Linked DNA regions of Homo sapiens: region 1 is linked to region 2. Evidence: fine-mapped expression QTL. A gene starts in region 2. The other region holds a variant in brackets. All regions are shown on one strand. Distances are between the middles of the regions. Region 1 overlaps FZR1 (fizzy and cell division cycle 20 related 1). Region 2 holds the start of MFSD12 (major facilitator superfamily domain containing 12).

Region 1 (8,000 bases), 27 kb after region 2:
AGTGTGGGTGGGCAAGGCCAGGGCCACTGCCAGGTGGGGTCCGTGGCCCTGAGCCCCCAGCTCTATGCACCCCCCACCTGGGGTCTGGCTTCTCCATCTCCACACCCCCTTGAGGGGCTTCTGTCTCCCCCTGCCCCTTCGATCGCAGGAGGCAGTGCCTGGCCGGGGTCGCAGGCACCTGTCACCCCAGCTCCTCACTCCTCACCCACTCACATCCAGTCCGTTTGTAAAATACACCCAGGATGAGACCTGCACGCAGTGGCTCACAGCAGCACGATTTGTGACAGCCCGAGGCGGAGAACACCGAACACCCAGTGAAGGTGAGGGGATCAGCACGGCGCCGCCACCGTGCTGGAACGAGACTCAGCCACAAGGAGGTGCGAAGCTCTGACCCAGGCCACAGTGCGGATGCACCTTGAGGATGTCACGCTCAGTGAGAGACACCAGACACAGAAGGGTACGCTGTGATCCCACTTCTATGAAATGTCCAGGACAGACCAATCCACAGAATCAGGGAGAGGATTCGTGGGTGCCGGGACTGGGGAGGGGGACCTGGGGGTGACTAGGTGACATAATGGGGACAGGGCTGCCTTCTGGGTGATGAGAATGTTCTGGAATCAGATGGGATGGCTGCACGGCGTGGTGAAGGTACTGAACGCCACCTCACTGTAAGACGGTAGATTTTGTATTTTACCACAATAAACAAAACAAAACAAAACCAAACCAAACCCAACAAACATCCAGAAACCTCCTGCCCTGCCCTGCCCCTCCTCTGGCTGGGCCCGGCCTTGGGTGGGGGCGGAGCCTGCACCCTGGTCTCCGCTTCCCCTGCCCTTGTCAGGTCCCCACAGATACGACCCTGCCTTTCCCATCTGGACACGCACCCAGGAGCTCCACTCCCTCGGCGTAGGTGCCCAAGTCCTCCCTGAGGCCCACAAGGCCCTGCACGCCCTGCCCTCCTCTCCTCACTCTGTTCCTCCCGCATACCAGGTGCCGTCCTGCCCCAGGGCCTTTGCATGGCTGTGCCCTTTGCCTCTCACCCAGGCGTCCCTGCCTTCTCCAGCCCTGGCTGAAATGCCAGGCTTGTGGTGAGCCTCTGATCCAAGGCCGCCCTTCCCCAAGGCCCCCTCCCCACCCTTGTGACGCCACCTCCTCACTTCCTCATAAGCTTCTCTGTCTCTGGGCTGTGTCCCCCATGCCAGCTCCACATGGGCCAGGTCTGCTCGGTTTCATCATCTCCAATGCCCAGGATGGGGCCTGCCCCAGCTCCTTCACCCTCTTCTCAGGCACCGCGCAAGAGCGAGCCTCAAAACCACCTGGGGCCTCCTGGCTGCCAGGACCCCCACAGCCTCCCCTGCAGCCCCCGGCCCCCCGGCCTCCTGGCTCCCTCAGCCACTTCCCAGCCATTCCTCCTGTTCTCTCCGCCCAGACCCCGGGGAGGCACCAGCACCCCCTGGGCCAGGCTCCTGCCTCCTGCACCTCTCATCGCAGAACCTATGGCAGCCTGAGTTTTTCAATTCTCTTTCCCTCTCACTGCACCAGCTACATTCCAGGATCAACAGAAAAGTTGCAGCCCGCCCTGCGGGGCCCTTGGTCAGCCTCCCCCTCCATCTGGGCGTCTCCCAACCACTGCCAGGGTCGCCCCAGGAAGCGATGGCCCCACTGGCCTTCGTCTGCCTGTCGGGTGGAGCTGACAGCAGAGGCACCTGCCCCAGCGCTGCTGAGTGGCCCCCGTGCCCCGCAAAGCCTGACGTACACTCCCCTGGGGCCCCTCCACCTCCTCTCAGCTGTCCTGGGCCATGGGGAACCAATTCCCCCATTTCTACACGAGCCCTGGCCCATCATCATGGGACCCTCCCACCACGGCCTTCACCCCCCTTGCTCTGTCCCTCCTGGCCCCATCTGGCCAGCCCTGGGGGTGAACTCAGCCCAGCAGTGCCCACCCTCCCTCCCTGATGGTGTCAACCGAGCACCTCCTCCCTGGAACAGGGCCGTCCAGCTGGAGCGCAGGGACTTGCCTGGAGTCCAGTCCTTGGCCCTGCAGGATTGTGGCCGGCGCCCTGGCAGACGGGCCTGGGAGGCGTCTCTGCGGCCTTCGAGGGCTGAGCTCCCCATCTGTGAAATGCAGGCCTGGGAAGCCCCTCAGAAGCTGCTTCTGCAGCTCCAGGGCCAGATGGGGACTCTAGGGCAGGACCGTGTGACCCCACCCGAGCCGGGGACCTAGAGCCAGCCAGTCCCGGCCACACATGAATCCACGTGTTTAATGACAGCGTCACTGCATTACATGAGAAACAAGGCTGGTCTGTCCTGGGAGCTCCCCCACCCCCTAGCATGGGCAGAACCAGCCCCAACACAAACCTCACGCCGTCCGCCTGGCCCTGCGGCGGTTCCCAGTCCCAGGAGGAGCCTCTGAAGGCCACTGTGGGTTGTGCACTGAGCCAGCCAAGCCCTGACGCCCACAGCGACAAGGCGGCTCTTTGGCAACTGCGGGCAGGGGCGGGCATGGGCGAAGGCAGGGTTGGTTTTCTTATTTAAAAACCTTGAAACAGTAAGACCGTGACCACTGGAAATCCACACTGCCACGTGCACCAGCACCCCCTGCACAGGCGCACAGTGAGGGGTCCGCGCCCCACCCAGACAGAGGTGGGGAGAGTCTCTCCAGTGAATGTGGAAGATCGACCCGCTTGAAATGACGGGGCTTTAAAACCAGGACCTCATCCCCCAGGAGCAGTGGGTGGGTCCTGGCCCCTCCCCGTCTAGCCTCAAACATTTCCAGGACTAGTCAACAAAAACACAAAACAAATCCAAAGAAAAGTCACAAATACATATGTACACATGCACGCCAACCCCACTGGGGACAGACACCAGGATGTTGGGATGTGGGGAGTGGGGAGTGGGGGTTCCCAAGCACAGCAGGGTGGTGGGTGGGACCCTCCAACCCCAGCCCGCCCCACCCTCTCCACGTCCCCACCGATGAAATGGGAAGGGGTGGTGGGGGGGTGAGGGGGCAGTGCTCAGCTCAGGCCCCACTCCCCTGCCTTGCCTCCCTCCCTGCCTGCTGTGCAGCCTGGGAGCATGAGACAGAGAAGCAGAGGAGCCTGGGAAGCTTCTCGAAGGATGGAGGGCGCCCACCTCCTGGACCCCTTGGGTCTCCTTGGCTTCCCCACGGCTGTTGGCGCTGGTGGACAGGACAGGTGAAGACACAGGCAGCCTGGGGGCGGGGGCCACACCGCTGCTGGCCTCCACAGGACCCAGCCACCCAGCAGGCATGGGGGACGCAAGTCTTGCGCAGGGAAGGAGGACGCTGGCCCTGTGAGGGCACGTGTTGGCGAATGCACGAAGACGTGGCATCTGTTGTGCTCCTCTCCAGCCAGGGCAGTGAGCAGGTCCGGGTTCAGTTCTCCTGGGGTGATAAGTCCAGAGCAGACATCCTCCTCCAGTGTGAGGGTGACGCTTGGCCAGGATGCACAGGCCCATCTGAAGCCCACTGACCGCCGGGCGATGGCCATGACACAGATGCTTCCAGAGAGACTGCTGCTTCGAGCAGTGACAGCAGAGGTGGCTGCAAGGATGCCGTGAAGCCCAGGTGGGGACTGTCTCTTGGATCCACA[G/A]GCTGGCTCCGCCAGTGGCCCCGAGCCACCTGCCCAGGCCTACATGCCTTGGTCTGGCCTTGGGGCTGGTCTTGGGTTTGACATGGTGGGGTGCAGCCATGAATGGGCAACCGGGGTCTCAGGCCCCCACCAATCAGCCCTGGCGTCTGGTGGTCTGTTCTGTGCAGACGTGGGCAGTTCCAGGAAGAGCATGCGGCTCCGGTGGGCAGGTGATGAACAGACGGAGGCAGTGAGGGTCCCAGGGGGCATCCGTCGCTCTGAGTACAGACGGTCTGAGCCGGGACCGTCCAATGTGGTTCTCGCCCTTTGGGAAGGGAGACAGAGCCCCTGCTGCTGAGGGTCCCCGACCACGTGCCCACCCCAGATACTGGTGGACATGGTTCACAATCAGGCATTTAATGAGACTCCAGGATCCTCCAGGCCCAGCTCCCCGCCCGCCCAGCCGCCTTCCTCGGGGGACAAGCGCTGGGAAGGCAGAGTCCATGCAAGCTGAGGAGCTGGGGTCCTCCGACTCTGGACAGCTGGTGTGGCACGGTCCTGCCCGGCAGGTTTACCGGATCCTGGTGAAGAGGTTGAGCACAGACACAGACTCCTGCAGACACATGGGGATGGCAGATGCGCTGAGCCGCAGGCCCAGGGAGGAAGCTGCCTGGAGGGTCCCCAAGGCTTTGGGGCTTGGTCCTGAGGGGCTGGGAGGTGCCAGTTCAGCCTCGGCCTGCCACACTGCCCCGACACATGACCCAGAATTTGAGGTGAGGGAAGCTCGGAAGTGGGGGAACCCAGAGGAGGGTACGCCCGAGGACAGTGGGGACAGGGACGACCCTGGGACAGGCTGGGGCGGGGGCGAGTGGCGCTGATACCGACCCACTTTACCTTTGTCGAACGGGTTTTGCTAAAGACGTTCCAGAACCTCAGGGTCTCGTCTCCAGCACCAGTGACGATGGCCTCCCCATCAGGGGACATTGCCTGTGGACAGGAGGGAAGCACCCCATGTCTCTGGGCCTCTAGGTGCCTCGGGACAGTGCTGGGGGACTGAAGGAGAGGGGAGCAAGGTGTCGGGTGGCTGGGCCCCCCAGACTCTGGAGCCAGGAGGGAGGGGCAGGCTGGGGCCACCACAAGCAGAAACCAAGGTTGGAGCCTTTTTTTTTTTTTTTTTTTTAATTTTAAGACGGGGTCTGGCTCTGTCACCCAGGCTGGAGTGTGCAGTGGGGCAATCCTGGCTTACTGCAGCCTTGACCTCCTGGGCTCAGGTGATCCTCCCATCTCAGCCTCCTGAGTAGCTGGGACTACAGGTGCACACCACCACACCTCATTTAAAAAAAGTTTTGTAGAGATGGGGTCTTGCTATGTTGCCCAGGCTGGTCTTGAACTCCTGGGCTCAAGCGATCCTCCCACCCTGGCTTCCTGAAGTGCAGGGATTACAGGCGTGAGCCACCGCACCTAGCCAAGGTTGGAGCATTTTTGCAAAAACACAAAGGACGCCCCCTTGCAAGAGGGGCTCATCAACTCTGCACAGATGAGGGACTGTCAGATGCGCGGATGAAAGCACAGAACATGTTTTTCAGGGAAGAAACAAAATCTTGGCAAGTGAGGGCACGTGGGGCCAAGGACGCCTCCTGGCCCCCATCCAGCCACGTGCATACAGTTACTGTGTAGGACGTTCACAGGGTCATCTGAGTGGTCAGCTGTGAGTTGGTTTTGGCTTTCCTCTTCACCCCTCTTTATGGGGAAAATAAACAAATGAAGAAGCTAAGGTCCTCCAGGAGGACAGGGCCTGCACCTGCAGGGCTGGGGAGTTCGGTAGAGCCCATTCCAACGCTGGCAACACAACCAGCACCAGATGCCCTGCCGGCCCCTGCTGCTGGGTCCCACGGGGTTTTAGATCTGCACACCATCCTCCCTAAGAACACAGGACAGGGTGCTCTGGGGTGGCCATGGCAGTTTGTCCAGAATCCCGGGGCACCTTGAAGTGCCTGGCGTGAACTCACCAGGTACAGCACGCGGTAGGAGTGCCCGGTCAGCTTGGCCACCTGGGTCAGGGAGGGGTACTTCCAGACAAGGATCTGGTTCTGTGAGTAGCCGTGCGTGCTCACCTGGAGGGCGGAGGGGGCGCTGCGGTCGGTGAGGGGCAACGAGGCCGGGTGCTATGCCTGCTGCCTCACATGCACCCGCCTGAGCCCATGTGAGAGCTCAGAGCCGCCAGCCAGCCCAGGAGGAGCAGGGGATGCTGGGATGTGGCTCTGCCACCTGAGTCTGTCTAGGAGGTGTGGAGGCCACAGGTGGACCCCTCCACCCACCGCCAAAGGCTGGAGCCCAACAAGGACCCAAACGGGGCCCACAGCCCCTCTGCCCCACCTGCAAGTCACCCCCGAGACTGTCCTGGTGACACGCCCGGAGTGGCTGGAGCAGGCCAGGGTGCTCAGTGGAGCCCGCTTCATCCTGGGCCTCCCCTCTAAGCAGAGGCAGCCATAGGAGCTCCCCGGCTCCTCACAGAGCCGCCAGGTGTGGCTGCGATGGGGGCCCAGAGGCCCCAAGTCTTGCCCCAGGTGAGGCCCTGATGAGGCCCAGGGGCCTTGCCCCCCACAACTCCCTGCCTCCCCGCTCGGCCTCCCTCGCCCATCTCCCTTCAGAGCGACTCTGACCCATCTCCCCACAGGCTGCTCTCAGGTGGCAGGTAAGGGGCCAGCAGGACGCACATCCTGAGGCCTGGTGGGAGGCCGGGCCGCCCGTGCTCACCAGCTCGTTGGCGTGCTTGGACCAGGCCAGATTGCACACTTGGGAGCCCGTGTCGATACACTGCAGTGGTTGTCCTGTCAGCGTGTTCCAGAAGCGGATACAGCGGTCAGCTGTGCCGCCCCCCGAGGCCAGCAGCCCGTGCTGATGTGGGGACCAGGCGATGGCCTTCACGGCCGCCAGGTGCTCCGTGTACTGCTGCACGGGGCTCAGGCTCGAGTGATTCCAGACCAGCAGCTGGGGGACAGGGGCTGTGAGGCCGGGGCTGTCCCAGCCCTGTGGTCCCATAGGCCGGTCCTCACAGGTGTGACGACCTGCCCTGGCACCCCACCCCACACTCCTCCTGCTGCTCCCTCAAGGACCCCTGGGGGCACACACTCGTCACCCTGTGCCACAGGGCAGGACTGGCTGAGCAGGAAGGACAAGCCTGGTGCCCTGCTGATGGCTGTGGAGTGGGCCCCGCGCCCGCGCCCGCCCCAGCCCAGGCTCTTCCGTTCCTGCCAGTGTGAGGGGTGCGGCTTCTGGTGAAGGGGAAGCCCAGGCTCTGGGCGGGGGTACCTTGTTGTCGTTGCCCCCCGAGGCGAGGAGCTGGTGGTCTGTGGACCACTTGAGCCCGCACACCTCCTGCCGGTGGCCCTGCAGCCGCCGCTCCGACTGCAGTGGCGGGGTGCGGATGTCCCTCTGCAGGATCATGCGGTCGCGGCTCCCGGACGACAGCTGCTCAGCATTCCAGGCCAGCGCCCCTGGAGGCCAGGTGGAAGCGGGGGTGAGCCTCTCCTGCCCTCGCGGAGCTGGGGCCTCAGGGAGCTCACCAGCCATGGGACCCGGGCTCCTCACCGACGCGTGCCGTGTGGCCCTCCAACATGGACAGCTTCTTCCCTGCGGCTGCGTCCCAGATCTGCACGAAGCCCTTGTGTGTGCCCACCGCCACCAGGTTCCCCTAGGATGGAAGGCATGGGCAGAGCACCGGTGTCAGGTCTGGCCCGGGGACTGTGCCCGTCCTGGCGTTGGTCGCGCCAGGCTCTCTCCTCACCAGGGCTCTGGGACGGTTTCCCTAACGACTCTCGAATGCACGTCCCTTCGGAAGAAGCATAAACCCCCCTCAGTGCATGCTGGGGTGGCGGGCACACCCCGCACACACTGCGCCTGGGTTTCTCAGAGTCCAGCCAAGACTCGGTACGTGGACCTTCCCACATGGACATTTCACACAGAGGGAAGGAGAAACTGCAGACACTGAGCTCCAGGTTCCACACAGGCCCAGGAGCTGGGCAACATGCGTTGCTGTCTGCAACTGACTTTGAGGCACATGAAAACCTAAGATGGATGGAGGGAGGGTGAGCGCACACGCCTGGACACAGTGAGCGGTTACGAGTGCTAGGGGCAGCCCTGGGCAGCTCTGGGTGAGGGGCACAGACCCTCCCCATGATATGCTTCAAAGCTGCTGCTGAGATGTTTTCATCATAATCTAAAATGGAACTAAAGCCCACTCGACCCTGAGTGGAAAATGGAACTCCAGGGGAGCGAGTCCCAGGTGGGCAGGTCCCATGGAAGGAACTGGGGCGTTATTTCCCCACTGGACCTGCCATCCTTTCTAGGGGCCTGGTGGGTGCCTGCTCATCCCTGTTACTCCCTCTACCAGGACCACACTAAGGCCGG
Region 2 (15,527 bases):
GATTCTCCTGCCTCAGCCTCCTGAGTAGCCGGGATTACAGGCACGTGCCACCAAACCCAGCTAATGTTTGTATTTTTAGTAGAGACGGGGTTTTGCCATGTTGGCCAGGCAGGTCTTGAACTCCTGACCTCAGATGATCCGCCCACCTTGGCCTCCCAAAGTGCTGAGATTACAGGCGTGAGCCACTGTACCCGGCCGCATCTCTTTTTAAAATTTTTCCTAGCCACACTCACACACACACACACACACACACACACACACACGCACACCACACTGCATTGGTTTGCTAGGTAATAATTACGACAAACTGAGGGGCTTAAACAAGAGAAATTTATTGTTTCACAGTTCTGGAGGCCAGAAGTCCAAGAGGAAGGTGTGGGTAGGGCTGGGGCCTTCTGAGGGCGGGGAGAGAATCTGTCCCTGGCGTCTCCCAGTTTCTGGCATTGGCCAGCAATCCTGGGCTTTTCTTGTCTTGTAGGAGTGACACCCCGATGTCTGCCTGCATCTTCATGTGGGGTTCTCCCTATGTGCGTGTCTGCACCCAAATTTCCTCTTTTGATAAGGACAGCAGTCATACTGCGTCACGGCCCACCCTAATGATGTCATCTTAACTCATTATATCTGCAATGACCTTTTTCCAAATACGGTCACATTCTGAGGCCTTGGGGATTAGGACAGGAACCTGTGCATTCTGTGGGGACATGACTCCACCCACAGCACATGCCTACACACGTACACATGTGCGTATTCCTAATAAAGACGTGGGCTGGGCGCGGTGGCTCACGCCTGTAATGCCAGCACTGTGGGAGGCCGAGGTGGGTGGATCGCTGGAGGTCAGGAATTTGACACCAGCCTGGCCAACATGGAGAAACCCTGTCCCTACTAAAAACACAAAAATTGCCAGGCACGGTGGCTCACACCTGTAATCCCAGCACTTTGGGAGGCTGAGGTGGGAGGATCACGAGGTCCACAGTTCGAGACCAGCCTGGTCAACATGGTGAAACCCCATCTCTACTAAAAATACAAAAATTAGCCGGGCGTGGTGGCGGGCACCTGTAATCCCAGCTACTTGGGAGGCTGAGGTAGGAGAATAGCTTGAACACGGGAGGCAAAGGTTGCAGTGAGCGGAGATCCCGCCACGGCACTCCAGCCTGGGACAGAGCGAGACTCCGTCTCAAAAAAAAAAAAAAAATTTTTTTAACGTGAATATATATTTTTTATTTAGTCATTTTTGCTTACAGTTGAAACTCTAGAGAATCTGCGTGAAACTAGATGGCAGCCGGCTCATAAAGGTTCATTTGGACAAGGCACAGCAGAACAATATGGAACACAAGGTTGAAACTTTTTCTGGTGTCTATAAGAAGCTCATGGGCAAGGATGTTAATTTTGAATTCCCAGAGTTTCAATTGTAAGCAAAAATGACCAAATAAAAAATGTGTATTCACAGTTAAAAAAAAAATTCTACAAAAAAGTAAAACCACAAAAATTAGCTGGGCATGGGGGTGCACGCCTGTAGTCCCAGCTACTCAGAAGGCTGAGGCAGGAGAATCACTTGAACCTAGAGGCGGAGGTTGCAGTGAGCTGAGATCGTGCCACTGCACTCCAGCCTGGGTGACAGAGCGAGACTCCCTCTCAAAAAATAGTAAATAAATAAATAAAAATATAGGCTGGGCGTGGTGGCTCCCGCCTGTAATCTCAGCACTTTGAGAAGCCAAAGTGGGCCGATCACCTGAGGTCAGGATTTCAAGAACAGCCTGGCCAACATGGCAAAACCCTGTCTGTACTAAAAATACAAAAAGTAGCCACGCATGGTGGTGCACACCTGTAGCTCCAGCTACTCAGGAAGCTGCGGCACAAGAATTGCTTGAACCTGGGAGGCAGAGGTTTCAGTGAGTCAAGATCGAGCCACTACACTCCAGCCTGGGCGACATGGCGAGACTTTGTCTCAAAAAAATAAATAAATAAATAAAGTGAGGTCCTGGCCAGGTGCAGTAGCTCACACCTGTAATCCCAGCACTATGGGAGGCTGAGGCAGGAGGATTGCTTGAACCCAGGAATTTGAGGCCAGCCTGGACAACATAGTGAGACCCTGTCTCTACAAAAAAAAATAATAATAAAAGTAAGCAAACAAATGTGAGGTCCTATTCTGCTGTGTATTATACCAGTGCCTTCATGCTGTAAGCTTCAACTGCAACCAGTTCTGTTTACTCAATAATATCGCTCAGATAAAGGGTATTTTTTACTATTATTATTTTTTGAGACATGGTGTCTCGCTGTGTCACCCAGGCTGGAGTGTAGTCATCGGATCTCAGCTCACTGCAACCTCGAACTCCTGGGCTCAAGTGATTCTCCTGCTTCAGCCTCTCGAGCAGTTGGGACCACAGGTATGCACCACCACATCTGGCTGATTATTTTAATTTTCGTACAGATGGGGTCTTGCTTTGTTGCCCAGCTCCCAGGCTAGAGTGCAGTGGCTCAGTCTCAGCTCCCTGCAACCTCCACCTCCCTGCAACCTCCACCTCCCGTGTTCAAGTGATTCACGTGCCTCAGCCTTCAGAGTAGCCAGGGTTACAGGCACACATCGCCATGCGAGACTAATTTTTGTACTTTTAGTGGAGATGAGGTTTTGCCATGTTGGCCAGGCTGGTCTCAAACTCCTGGCCTCGTGATCCTCCTGCCTCAGCCTCCCACAGTACCACAGTACCACAGTACTGGGATTACATGCCCCCATTAATTTTTTTTTTTTTTTTTTGAGATGGAGTCTCTCTCTGTCGCCCAGGCTGGAGTGCAGTGGCGCCATCTCTGCTCACTGCAAGCTCCGTCTCCCGGGTTCATGCCATTCTCCTGCCTCAGCCTCCCGGGTAGCTGGGACTACAGGCGCCCGCCACCACACCCGGCTAAGTTTTTGTATTTTTAGTAGAGACGGGGTTTCACTGTGTTAGCCAGGATGGTCTCAATCTCCTGACCTCGCGATCCGCCCGCCTCGGCCTCCCAAAGTGCTGGGATTACAGGCATGAGCCACCGCGCCTGACCTTAAATTTTTAATAGATATTAATCAACATGGATGTGTGGACTTTTCTCCACCACCCAGGGAGAGTCAGGGTGTGGTTGGTTCTCCCAGGCCACGGACAATCTCAAGCCTCCTGGGGCTTTTTATAGAGGCAACTTCATACAGGCATTGCTTAAACAGATGCTGGAGAGCTGAGAAGGCGACAGGGAAGCGGAAAGAGAGCTACTGCCCCTAGCATCCCCTGGCCCCGGGGCTGGCAGAACACAGGGCTGGTGGGACAGGGATCTCAGGCCTCTGAGGAGGGGCACCCCACTGCTGCTGGGCCCTCAGGAACTCAGGGAAGCAATCTGAGCCTCAACTGTGGGACTTGGGCAATTTACTCAACTTCTGTGCCTCAGTTTCTCCATCTGTTAAGTGGGATAATTGCTTTGTCTACCTTTATGACGTTGCTGGCTGGGATTGTCCAGGGAGAATCAAACACCTGTTACAGAAAACGCTCTAGCTCAGTGGTTCTCATCCGGGGCCAACTCTGTCACGCCAGGAAATACCTAGTAATGTCTAGAGAGATTTTTCATTGTCGGACTAGGGGGGTGCTACTGGCATCTACACGGTTGAGGCCAGAGATCCTACACGGCCCCCACCACAAAAAATGATGTCCCAAACGTCAGGAGTACCGAGGTTGGTCAGGCACAGTGGCTTACGCCTGGAATCCCAGCACTTCGGGAGGCCGAGGCGGGCGGATCACCTGAGGTCAGGGGTTCGAGACCAGCCTGGCCAACATGGCGAAACCCCATCTCCACTAAAAAGACAAAAAACTTAGCCGGATGTGGTGGCACACGCCTATACTCCCAGCTACTCGGGAGGCTGAGGCAGGAGAACTGCTTGAACCCAGGAGGCGGAGGTTGCAGTGAGCTGAGATCGCACCGGTGCACTCCTGCCTGGGCGACAGAGCGACTCTCCGTCTCAAAACACAACACAACAACAAAAAGCTCCGAGTTCCAGGCCCTGCCGTGCCAGGAGGTCACCGCGCTTCGTTACAGCTCCTCCCCGTTTTGCTCTCAGCGCAAGGACTGACCAGCATCAACGTTAAAACGTAAATCACAAGACTCACAGAATGCGCTCCTTCTGGCAATGGTAGACCAGATACTGAACAGGACCTGAGGCCAGGAGGGTCCTGGCAAAGACTGAGTCACGCAAAGACTGACTGAAGAGGCCGGGCGCAGTGACTCACGCCTGTCATCCCAGCACTTTGGGAGCCCGAGGCGGGCAGATCATGAGGTCAGGAGTTAGAGAGCAGCCTGACCAACGTGGAGAAACCCCCGTCTCTACTAAAAATACAAAAACTTAGCCAGGCGTGGTGGCAGGCACCTGTAATCCCAGCTACTCAGGAGGCTGAGACAGGAGAATCGCTTGAACCTGGGAGGAGGAGGTTGTGGTGAGCTGAGATCGTGCCACTGCATTCCATCCTGGGCAATAGAGCAAGACTCCGTCTCAAAAAAAAAAAAAAAAAAAAAAAGAGTTCGTCCTTCCTTCCCTCCCTCCCCATCCTTTTTTTTTTTTTTTTTTTGAGACTGGGTCTCACTCTGTCGCCCAGGCTGGAGTGCAATGGCGCGATCTCAGGTCACCACAACCTCTGCCTCCCAGGTTCAAGCAATTCTCCTGCCTCAGCCTCCCGAGTAGCTGGGATTATAGGTGGCCACCACCATGCCCAGCTAATGTTTTTTTTGAGATGGAGTCTCACTCTGTCGCCGAGGCTGGAGTGCAATGGCCAGACCTCGGCTCACTGCAACCTCTGCCTCCCGGGCTCAAGTGATTCTCCTGCCTCAGCCTCCCGAGTAGCTGGGATTACAGGCATGCACCACCAGGCCTAGATAATTTTTTGTATTTTTAGTAGAGATGAGGTTTCACCATATTGGCGAGGATGGTCTCAGACTCCTCATCTCAGGTGACCCACCTGCCTCGGCCTCCCTAAGTGCTGGGATTACAGGTGTGAGCCACCGCGCCCGGCCAAGTTGTGTGGTTGAAGCCTCCTGGTATTCTGTTTGGTTCGGTTACTCTCACCTCACCCCCATTTTACAGAGAGGGCAACTGAAGCTTGGTGGCTTGTCAGGGACTGCCCAGATTTGATCCTGGCTTTGCTCCCCTGCTCCCCCGCCTCCACCGTGGCCACCCTCAGATATAAGGAAGTTTCAGTGCAGCCTCAGGAACCCTCACTGCCCACCCCCCCACCTCTGTCACCCCAGGCCTGGGTCACAGAAGATCAAGGAAGCCTCTAGTACTTGACATTCCCCACCCCACCCCGAGGCTGGACTGCGGCCATCAGGACATCCGATGTCCGGCCAGGGGAGGGGGAACGCAGGCTTGGCGTCAGGGGGCTGCTGGTGATGGGCTGGGGACATCAGACTGTGAGGATCTCTCCTGACTCCTCTGTCCTACCCCGAGGGCCTGAGCTTTCATCATGCCTTCCTGACATCTCTAGACAGGGCCTTCTCTGATCTTTACCCTCACGTCCAACCCCCACTCTTGTTGGGGCACATGTCCTCTCCTGTGGCTTCCCCACGCACGCAGCTGAGGCCTTCATTTGGAAGAAGCCCTTCCTCATCTCCCACTGGACTTTTTAATCTGACTCAGTCCCACCCTCCCTCTAACCCCTACCATGGCTCCCTAGTGACCTCAGGGTAATGTCCCAACTCCTCACCTACCTTGTAACCGCCCTTCTTGGTCTGACTCCTCCAGTCCTGTCCCTGATGAGGGGAACTGGGAGGGGTCATCCCTGTCTCCCCTCAAAAGCAGGGGCTTCAGAATCTTTGGGGCTCCTCAGCAAGAGGTCAGACCTAGTTCCTGCTCACCCCACAAAGTCAGGGCTAGGAAATATTAGCTGGCTTCAAAGGGACAAAAACAGAGGCCAGGTGCCGAGGCTCATGCCTATAATCCCAACACTCTGGGAGGCTGAGCCGGGAGGACCACTTGAAGCCAGGTGGTCGGGACCAGCCTAGGCAAAATGATGAGGCCTCATCTCTACAAAAAATTTAAAAATACTTTGGGTGGCCAGGCGCAGTGCCTCACACCTGTAATCCCAGCACTTTGGGAGGCCGAGGCAGGGGGATCATGAGGTCAGGAGATCGAGACCCTCCTGGCTAACACAGTGAAACCCCATCTCTACTAAAAATACAAAAAATTAGCCGGGCGTGGTCGTGGGCGCCCGTAGTCCCAGCTACTCAGGAGGCTGAGGCAGGAGAATGGCGTGAACCTGGGAGGTGGAGCTTGCAGTGAGTGGAGATGGCGCCACTGCACTCCAGCCTGGGCGACAGGCGAGACTCCGTCACAAACAAACAAACAAAAATACTTTGGGTGGCCAGGCGCGGTGGCTCACGCCTGTAATCCCAGCACTTTGGGAGGCTGTGGCAGGCGGATCACTTGAGGTCAGGAGTTCGAAAGCAGCCTGGCCAACATGGTGAAAACCATCTCTACTAAATATACAAAAATTATCTGGGGGTGGTGGCGCTCGCCTGTAGTCCCAGCTACTCGGGAGGCTGATACAGAACTGCTTGAACCCAGGAGGCAGAGGTTGCAGTGAGCGGAGACTGCGCCATTGCACTCCAGCCTAGGTGACAAAGCAAGACTCTGTCTTCAAAAACAAAAACAAAAAAACTACGTTGGGTATGGTGATTCATGCCTGTGATCTCAGCACTTTGGGAGGTCAGGAATTTCGAGAACCGACCCACAACATGGCGAAACAGCAACATGGCGAAACCCCGTCTCTACTAAAAAATACAAAAAATTAGCCGAGCGTGGTGGCAGGTGCCTGTAAGCCCAGTTACTTGGGAGGCTGAGGCAGGAGAATCGCTTGAACCCGGGAGGTGGAGGTTGCGGTGAGCCGAGATCGTGCTACTCCACCCCAGCCTGGGCGACAGAGCAAGACTCAGTCTCAAACAACAACCACCACAACAGCAAAAGGACAAGAATGCAGAGATGTGTTGGCGCTTTAACCACACCCTGCCTCCTCCGCTGGATCTTCTCCAAAGGGAGGCGGGATTGTGCCTGATTCTCGACCTACAAAGGAGGCTGAAAAAGCAGTGGACAGTGAGGCACCTGTTCCTCCACACTCAGGTGGCATTCCGCAGCCAGCACATAAAGAGGTCACGTGGAGCTGAGTTCAAATCCCACATCTGCCTCTTGTTAGTCCCATGCCCGCCACAGTCCCATGCCCATGCCCGTCTTTGTGAAACTCAGTTTCCTTATCTGTAAAAGAGGCATGAAGGGCTGGGCGCAGTGGCTCGCACCTGTAATCCCAGCACTTTGGGAGGCCGAGGCGGGCGGGTCACCTGAAGTCAGGAGTTTGAGACCAGCCTGGCCAAGATGGTGAAATCCCGTCTCTACTACAAATACAAAAATAAGCTGGGCGTGGTGGCGGGCGCCTGTAATCCCAGCTACTCGGGAGGCTGAGGCAGGAGAATCGCTTGAACCCGGGAGGTGGAGGTTGCAGTGAGCCGAGATCGTACCATTGCACGCCAGCCTGGCGACAAAGTGAGACTCCATCTCAAAAAAAACAAGAAAAGGCAGTGGAGGGGGTCATGAAGGCTGCACACTGTGCCTCACGTCTGTAATCCCATCTCTTTGGGACCAGTCAGGGCAACATAGCAAGACTTCCATCTCTGAAAAAATTAGCCAGGTGTGGTGGCAGGCACCTGTAGTCCCAGCTACTCAAGAGGCTGAGGCAGGAGGATCTCTTCAGCCCGGGAGGCCAAGGCTACAGTGAGCTGTGGTCACACCACTGCACTCCAGCCTAGGTGACAGAGCAAGACCCTGTCTCTAAAAATAAAAATTAATAATAAAATAAAATAATAGAGCATGAAGTGGTGTAAGACCTCCTAGGGATCTTGTGGGATGAAAGGAGATGAGGAATGGGAAAAACATTAGTTTTTTTGTTTTTGTTTTGAGACTGAGTCTCACTGTGTCACCCAGGCTGGAGCACAGTGGTGCGATCATAGCTCACTGCAGCCTTCGTTTCCTGGGCTTCAGTGATCCTCCCACAGCAACCTCCGGAGTAGCCAGGACTCCAGGTGTGCACCACCACACCTGGCTAATTTTGTTGTTGTTGTTGAGACAGGGTCTTCCTCCGTCGCCCAGGCTGGAGTGCAGTGGCGCGATCTTGGCTCACTGCAACCTCCACTTTCTGGGTTCAAGCGATTCTCCTGCCTCAGCCTCCGGAGTAGCTGGGTTACAGGCACCCACCACCACGCCTGGCTAATTACTGTAATTTTTTTTTTTTTTTGAGATGGGGTCTTGGTCTGTCCCCCAGGCTAGAGTGCAGCGGCACGATCTCAGCTCACTGCAACCTCCACCTCCCGGATTCAAGCCGTTCTCCTGCCTCAGCCTCCCGAGTAGCTGGGATTATCTGCGCCCGCCACCACGCCCAGCTAATTTTTGTATTTTTAGTAGAGACAGGGTTTCACCATCGTGGCCAGGCTGGTTTCGAACTCCTGACCTCGTGATCCACCCGCCTTGGCCTCCCAAAGCGCTGGGATTACAGGCGTGAGCCACCGCGCCTGGCCCAATTTTTGTATTTTTAGTAGAGACGGGGGTCTCACCATGTTGGCCAGGCTGGTCTCGAACTGCTGACCTCAAGTGACCCCTTCACCTTGGCCTCCCAAAGTGCTGGGATTACAGGCGGGAGCCAGGATCCCTGGTCCCTAGGCTAATATTTCAAAAAGTCATCTTTCATTTCCCTCAGAGGACTCTAAAGGGGAACGTGCCAGGAGGACTCTAAGTGGGAACGTGCCAAACAGAGAGGAAGGAATTGAGGTTCTTATCTCTCCTCAACCCTTTATCTCCCCGAGTCGTCTGCCCCTTATCTCTCCTCCTTCCTTTCTAGGTTCTGTGTCTTGACCTCTTTTACCCCTCCCGCCCATTTTCAGTCTAGTTTTCATAAAACAGTGTGTGACCTGCATCACCGTGGGCAGCCGGGGCCGTGGACCCCTTGGCTGTTTGAGCCTTGGGTTTTGTTTTGTTCTGGTTTTTGAGACGGATCTTCGCTCTGTCGCCCAGGCTGGAGTGCAGTGGTGCGATCTCAGCTCACTGCAACCTCAGCCCTCCCAGGTTCAAGAGATTCTCCTGCCTCAGCCTCCCAAGTAGCTGGGATTACAGGCACAGCCACCACGCCCAGCTATTTTTGTATTTTTAGTAGAGATGGGTTTTCACCATGTTGGGCAGGCTGGTCTCGAACTCCTGAGCTCAAGTGATCTGCCCACCTTGGCCTCCTAAAATGTTGGGATTACAGGCTTGAGCCACCGCACCTGGCCTAATTTTTAAAATTTTTTATAGAGATAGGGTTTCAGCACATTGCCCAGGCTGGTCTTGGACTCCTGGGATCAAACAATCCTCTCACCTCGGCCTCCCAAAGTGCTGGGATTACAGGCATGAGCCACCATGGCAGGCCAATTATATAACTCCTGTACCCGTTCTAGATCAGGGGAGACCCAAGCTCCAAGAGGTTAAAAGACTTGTCCCAGGCTGGGCGCAGTGGCTCACGCCTGTAATCCCGGCACTTTGGGAGGCCGAGGCGGGCAGATCACAAGGTCAGGAGATCGAGACCATCCTGGCTCACACGGTGAAACCCCCGTCTCTACTAAGAATACAAAAAATTAGCCGGGCACGATGGCGGGCGCCTGTAGTCCCAACTGCTCCGGAGGCTGAGGCAGGAGAATGGCGTGAACCCGGGAGGTGGAGCTTGCAGTGAGTTGAGATCGCGCCAGGGCACTCCAGCCTGGGCGAGAGAGCCAGACTCCGTCTCAAAAAAAAAAAAAAATAAAATAAAAATAAAATTACAAAAATTAGCCGGGCGTGTTGGCGGGCACCTGTAATCCCAGCTACTCAGCAGGCTGAGGAAGGAGAATCTCTTGAACCCAGGAGGCGGAGGTTGCAGTGTTCTGAGATCGTGCCACCGCACTCCAGCCTGGGCGACAGAGCCAGACTCCGTCTCAAAAAAAAAAAGACTTGTCCCAAGTGGAGCAGCAGAGAATCAGTGGAACCAAGTCTGGATCCAACGATTCTCCTTCCATACTGCAAGGACCTTTTGTTTTGTTTTGTTTTGTTTTAGAGCTGGGGTCTTGCTGTTGCCCAGGTTGGAGTGCAGTGGTGCAATCATACCTCACTGCAGACTGCAAGGCCAAATATACTGCTGTAGGCCGGGCGCGGTGGCTCGTGACTGTAATCCCAACACTTTGGGAGGCCAAGGCGGGTGGGTCACTTCAGTTCAGGAGTTTGAGACCAGCCTGGCCAATATGGGGAAACCCCGTCTCTACTAAAAATACAAAAATTAGCTGGGCGTGGTGGTGGGTGCTCGTAGTCCCAGCTACTCGGGAGGCTGAGGCAGGAGAATCGCTGGAACTCGGGAGGCAGAGGCTGCAGTGAGCTGAGATTGCAACACAGCACTCCAGCCTGGGTGACAGACGGAGACTCCATCTCAAAAAGAGAGAGAGAGAGAGAAAGAAAGAAAGAAAACTGCTGGAGACCCGCCCGATGCAGAGGCTCATGTTTGTAATCCCAGAGCTTCTGGAGGCCAGGGTGGGAGGCTTGCTTGAGACCAGGAGTTTGAGGTCAACCTAAGCATCATAGTGAGACCCTGTCTCTCCAAAATTAAAAATACAAAAGTTAGCCACATGTGGTGATGCGTGCCTGTAGTCCCAGCTACCTGGGAGGCTGAGACAGGAGGATTACTTGAGCCCTGAAGATTGAGGCTGTAGTGAGCCATGATTGCACCAATGCACTGCAGCCTGGGCCACAGAGCAAGACCGTTTCTTTCTTTCTTTCTTTCTTTTTTGAGGCGGCGTTTCACTCTTGTTATCCAGGCTGGAGTGCAATGGCGCGGTCTTGGCTCACTGCAACCTCTGCCTCCTGGGTCAAGCGATTCTCCTGCCTCAGCCTCCAAAGTAGCTGGGATTACAGGCACCTGTCACCACGCTCGGCTAATTTTTGTATTTTTAATAGAGACGGGTTTCACCTTGTTGGCCAGGCTGGTCTCAAACTCCTGACCTCAGGTGATCCGCCCGCCTCGGCCTCCCAAAGTGCTGGGATTACAGGCGTGAGTCACCGCGCCCGTCTCAAGACCCTGTTTCTGAAATAAATAAAAAGAGGAAAGAAGAGAAAATGCTGCTGGAAGGAGTAGGGCCTGAGTTAGGGGGAACCGCACACACCCCCTGGAGGAACTTGAAACCCTCAGTCCGGTGACCCGTTTGTGGGAGGACGTTGGTTGGACGGGGAGGGTCGCGCGCACAGGCCTGGGAGTCACAGACGCCTGACTCACTGCGAGCCTCGGGCAACTCTGTTCCTCGCCTGTAAAATGAGAGTGAAATTTGCGTCACCACGTGGGGCTCTTTGCAGGCAACGCTCGTTAAAGGCCAGCTGGTACTATTATGTTGATTACCCCCATCATTACCGTTAGTAACCAATTAATTAGTGTTGTTGCGTCCTCTCCGCGCCCGATCGCGTCTCTCTAGGCCGGGGAGTCAGCGGACCCCGAGGCCAGCTCGGGCTCAGACCTCCCCCCAACCCCAAATCCAGAGCCCGTCCCACTCGCTCCACCCCGGCCCGCAGTGGGCTGTCCAGCTCCGGGTGGACTGGGGTGGTGCGGGCCTGGAGGCCGGGTCTGGGTGGGAGCCGGCGGTGCCCTCTGGTCCATTTCCTTCCCCAGTCTATGGGGGTGCCGGCCACTCCTGCGGCGCGCTCGGGGTTCGCCCTCATACCCGGCGGGCGCTAGGACCGCGTGGGCGCCCGTCGTAGAGGCGGAACGAGCCCTGCGGCCACGCCCCTCTCCTCTCTCCTTGGCGATTGGCTGCGGTTCCCCGGGGCGCGGCTCCGATTGGCTCAGGCACCGGAACCTCCCCGCCCTGCCCCGCCCGGCGCAGTCGCCCGGCTCTGGGGCCCGGCGGCTGCAGAGTCGAGCGTGGGGCGGACGCGGCGGACGTGGGTGAGGGCGCGGCCGTAAGAGAGCGGGACGCGGGGTGCCCGGCGCGTGGTGGGGGTCCCCGGCGCCTGCCCCCACGGCACCCAAGAAGGCCTGGCCAGGGTACCCTCCGCGGAGCCCGGGGGTGGGGGGCGCGGGCCCGGCGCCGCGATGGGCCCGGGACCCCCAGCGGCCGGAGCGGCGCCGTCCCCGCGGCCGCTGTCCCTGGTGGCGCGGCTGAGCTACGCCGTGGGCCACTTCCTCAACGACCTGTGCGCGTCCATGTGGTTCACCTACCTGCTGCTCTACCTGCACTCGGTGCGCGCCTACAGCTCCCGCGGCGCGGGGCTGCTGCTGCTGCTGGGCCAGGTGGCCGACGGGCTGTGCACACCGCTCGTGGGCTACGAGGCCGACCGCGCCGCCAGCTGCTGCGCCCGCTACGGCCCGCGCAAGGCCTGGCACCTGGTCGGTAAGCGTCCCGGCCCCGCCACCTGTCGGGCAGCCCCTCCGAGACTCCGCGACCCGGGCGCCTCCTCCCTCTGACTCACCACCCGCCGTCTGCCTGCCTCAGGATCGGAGTCTCCCCTCGGTCTGTCTGTCCCGTGGCCCGAGCTTCCCTGCACTGTCTGTCCACGGCCTTAACCTCCCCTATGTATCTGTCTGCCCTATGAGCTGAGTTTTCACCCCTCTGTCTGTCCCCTGGCCCGAACCTCCCCTGTCTGTCTGTCTGTGCCCATGGCCTGAGCTTCCTCCATCAGTCCCACCACCCAGCCCCCTCTCTCTGCCTGCCTGGGACCTAAGTCTCCCCTGTTTGTCTGCCCCATGAGCTGAGTTTTCACCCCTCTGGCTGTTCCGTGGCCTGAGCCTCCCCCGTCTGTCTGACTACCCAGTGGCCCCTCTGTGGTGTCACTCCTGAGCCTCCCCTGCCTGTCCCACCATCCAGCATCCCCCGTCTTTCTGCCCCATGGCCTGAGCCTCCCCCGTCTGACTGTGCTGTGCCTCCCCCATCTGTCTGACTGTGCAGTGCCTCCCCCATCTGTCCAACTGTGCAGGGCTTCTCTATCTGCCTGAGCCATGAGCCTCCCCCATCTGTCTGTTTAACTGCCCCGTATCCCCTCTGTCTGTCCCTTGGTCCAGCCTCCCCTGTCTGCCTCAGAGCTGCTGTCTGACCTGCGGGGCCCTCACCATCTGACTACATGACTTTCTAGTGGGAATGCCTTTGTTTGTCTGAGCCCCCGGGCCACCCTGAACCCTCTGGAGGGTTGGTGGTGACTGCTCAGCGCCTCCTTTGTCAGTCTGTCTAGCCTGAGCTCGTCTATTAGGGTGACCAACTGGGACAGCTATGGCTGAGGGACAGTCAGGCCCCCTAGAGCCTCCTCTCTCTCTGTGTGTTCTGCCAGGGCAACCTGGTGCGTCAGCAGTTTGAGGGTGCTGCTCCGGGAGTTGAGAGTTGGGAGCCGCCTGGGTGGGACTGGAGGGTCAGGGGTCTCTGCCCTGTTCTTGCATTGCCTCTATCTGTCTGGCCAGGGTCAGGGACCCCCTAGGTCTGGGGGAGCTGCCCTGATTAGAGAGGGCTGTTGGGAGGGCAGGAGGCTGGCGTCATGGGCTGGGTCACCCTGCCCCAGTGCCCATCGATAAGACTGCAGGGCTGCCTCCCAGCGGCCCTCCTCTCCCCTCCCGGACCCTGGGCCTGAAGATTAGCCGGCCTCCTTCCCTGCTCTTCTTGCCCTCACAGAAGTGCCGGCTGCGTCCTGGCATTTGGGACACATGTGGCATTTCAGCAGGCAGGGCCAGGAATCCTGCTCAGTTCTTGGAATTCCAGGTGGCAGGAGGGGCAGGCGGGTGCCTCCTCACCCTTGGGAACAATGACTGGGATGGGTGGTTGGACCCAGGATCTGGGTGATGACATTTTTTGCAAGAGGCAGTGGATCTCCAGTGGTCTGAGGGTGGCAGGCTCCGCAGCAGGCACAGCTTGGGGACTGGAGTTTCATGTTTCCTATGTCCAGGCTATTCCTGGGGTACCTGAGGCGGCGGCAGACAGGGAGGGGACCGGCTGTCCCTTCCTTTGTGGTTACGTTGGGATTGGTTGCTGAGCGGAGCCCAGGGCCCCAAATGCCTCTTTGATCATAATAGTTGGATAAGCTCTTTGACAGTCGCGTAAGATAATTTCTGGGCGGGCCGGGCACGGTGGCTCACCCCTGTCATCCCAGCACTTTGGGAGGCCTCCTCACCTGAGGTCAGGAGTTTGAGACCAACCTGGCCAACATGGCAAAACCCCGTCTCTACTAAAGTACAAAAATTAGCCGAGCGTGGTGGCGCACGCCTGTAATCCCAGCTACTTGGGAGGCTGAGGTGGGAGAATCGTTTGAACCCGGGAGGCAGAGGCTGTAGTCAGCCAAGATCGCGCCACTGCACTCCAGACACAGCGAGAGTCTGTCTAAAAAAACAAAAAACAACAACAACAAACCAAAACAAGAAAACAAACAGAAACAGCAACCGAAGGCTTTATGTTTTTCCAAAGCAGACCTCAGGGAACCAGGTGGTCCAACCGGACACCAAGGCGTCCACCGTCACCCCTCTTCCCCGCCTCGGGGAGGGCACCTGCCCTGGGAGCTGAGAGGTGGGGGCCACCTGGGTGGGCCTGGAGGGTCAGGAGGGTCTGTTGGGAGCAGAAGCCCAGGCAGCCGCTCTTGATGCCTGAGCAGGTGACTTGAGTGAAGGTTACCCTGGCAATGGCACCCACTTCTGTATTTCACCCCCAAGTCTGGGGCTGGTGGCTAAGGACTCACTTTGCCCTTTAACAAGTCCTGGGGAGCTCCCCCACAATCCCGAGACGACCCTCAGAATCAGACACAAACACTCCTGTGAGTGGGCAGATGGCACAAATGGGCTTCAGAAGGAAGGACATTAACTTTGAGGTTTTGACGGATGGGTAGCAGTGTGTGGAGGGGCGCATTCCAAGTAGCAGAAACAGCTGTGGAAAAGGTAGGAACAGTCCTCACTTTGAAGCTGCGGAAGCAGGAAGTGGTTCAGAATAGACGGAGCTTTTGCTGGTGCCACACATGAACTCTATCCTCACAGCAGCCTGTGAGGCAGGAACTTTCTTTCTTTTTTTTTTTTTTTTGTTTTGTTGTTGTTGAGACAGAGTCTCACTCTGTCGCTCAGGCTGGAGTGCAGTAGCGGGATCTCGGCTCACTGCAACCTTCGCCTCCTGAGTTCAAAGGATTCTCGTGCGTCAGCCTCCTGAGTAGCTGGGATTACAGGCACGTGCCACCAAAGCCGGCTAATTTTTAAATTTTTAGTAGAGGCAAGGTTTCACCATATTGTCCAGGCTGGGCTTGAACCGCTGACCTCAAGTGATCTGCCTGTCTCAGCCCCCCACAGTGCTGGGATTACAGGTGTGAGCAACCACGCCTGGCCATGGGCAGGAACTTTCACTACCCTTCTTTCTCTTCTTTTTTTAATTTTTTATTTATTTTTATTTTTTATTTTTGAGACGGAGTCTTGCTTTGTCACCCGGGCTGGAAGGCAGTGGCGTGATCTCAGCTCACTGCAACCTCAACCTCCTGGGTT

The links. PIP is the estimated chance that this variant, and not a neighbour inherited with it, causes the effect. A credible set is the group of variants that fine-mapping cannot tell apart.
Region 1: its variant is the best candidate, but not a certain one, in a credible set for the expression of MFSD12 in whole blood (INTERVAL, PIP 0.52).

Annotation. Positions count from the first base shown.
Region 1 is chr19:3,530,998-3,538,997 of GRCh38, reverse strand. FZR1 (fizzy and cell division cycle 20 related 1) reads right to left here. Exons shown (of 14, transcript NM_016263.4): 9 at 7,182-7,284; 10 at 6,903-7,087; 11 at 6,348-6,581; 12 at 5,600-5,704; 13 at 4,485-4,577; 14 at 664-4,203. The coding sequence ends at 4,162. It also overlaps a transcript of MFSD12 not described here. Among named protein-coding and RNA genes, the nearest start is that of TEKTIP1, 4.2 kb to the left of the region's middle. The variant G/A (reference allele first, on the strand shown) is at 3,612.
Region 2 is chr19:3,554,002-3,569,528 of GRCh38, reverse strand. MFSD12 (major facilitator superfamily domain containing 12) reads left to right here and starts at 11,943. Exons shown (of 10, transcript NM_174983.5): 1 at 11,943-12,423. The coding sequence starts at 12,126. RefSeq lists an enhancer at 11,104-11,398 and silencers at 11,508-12,057, 12,098-12,167, 12,348-12,517.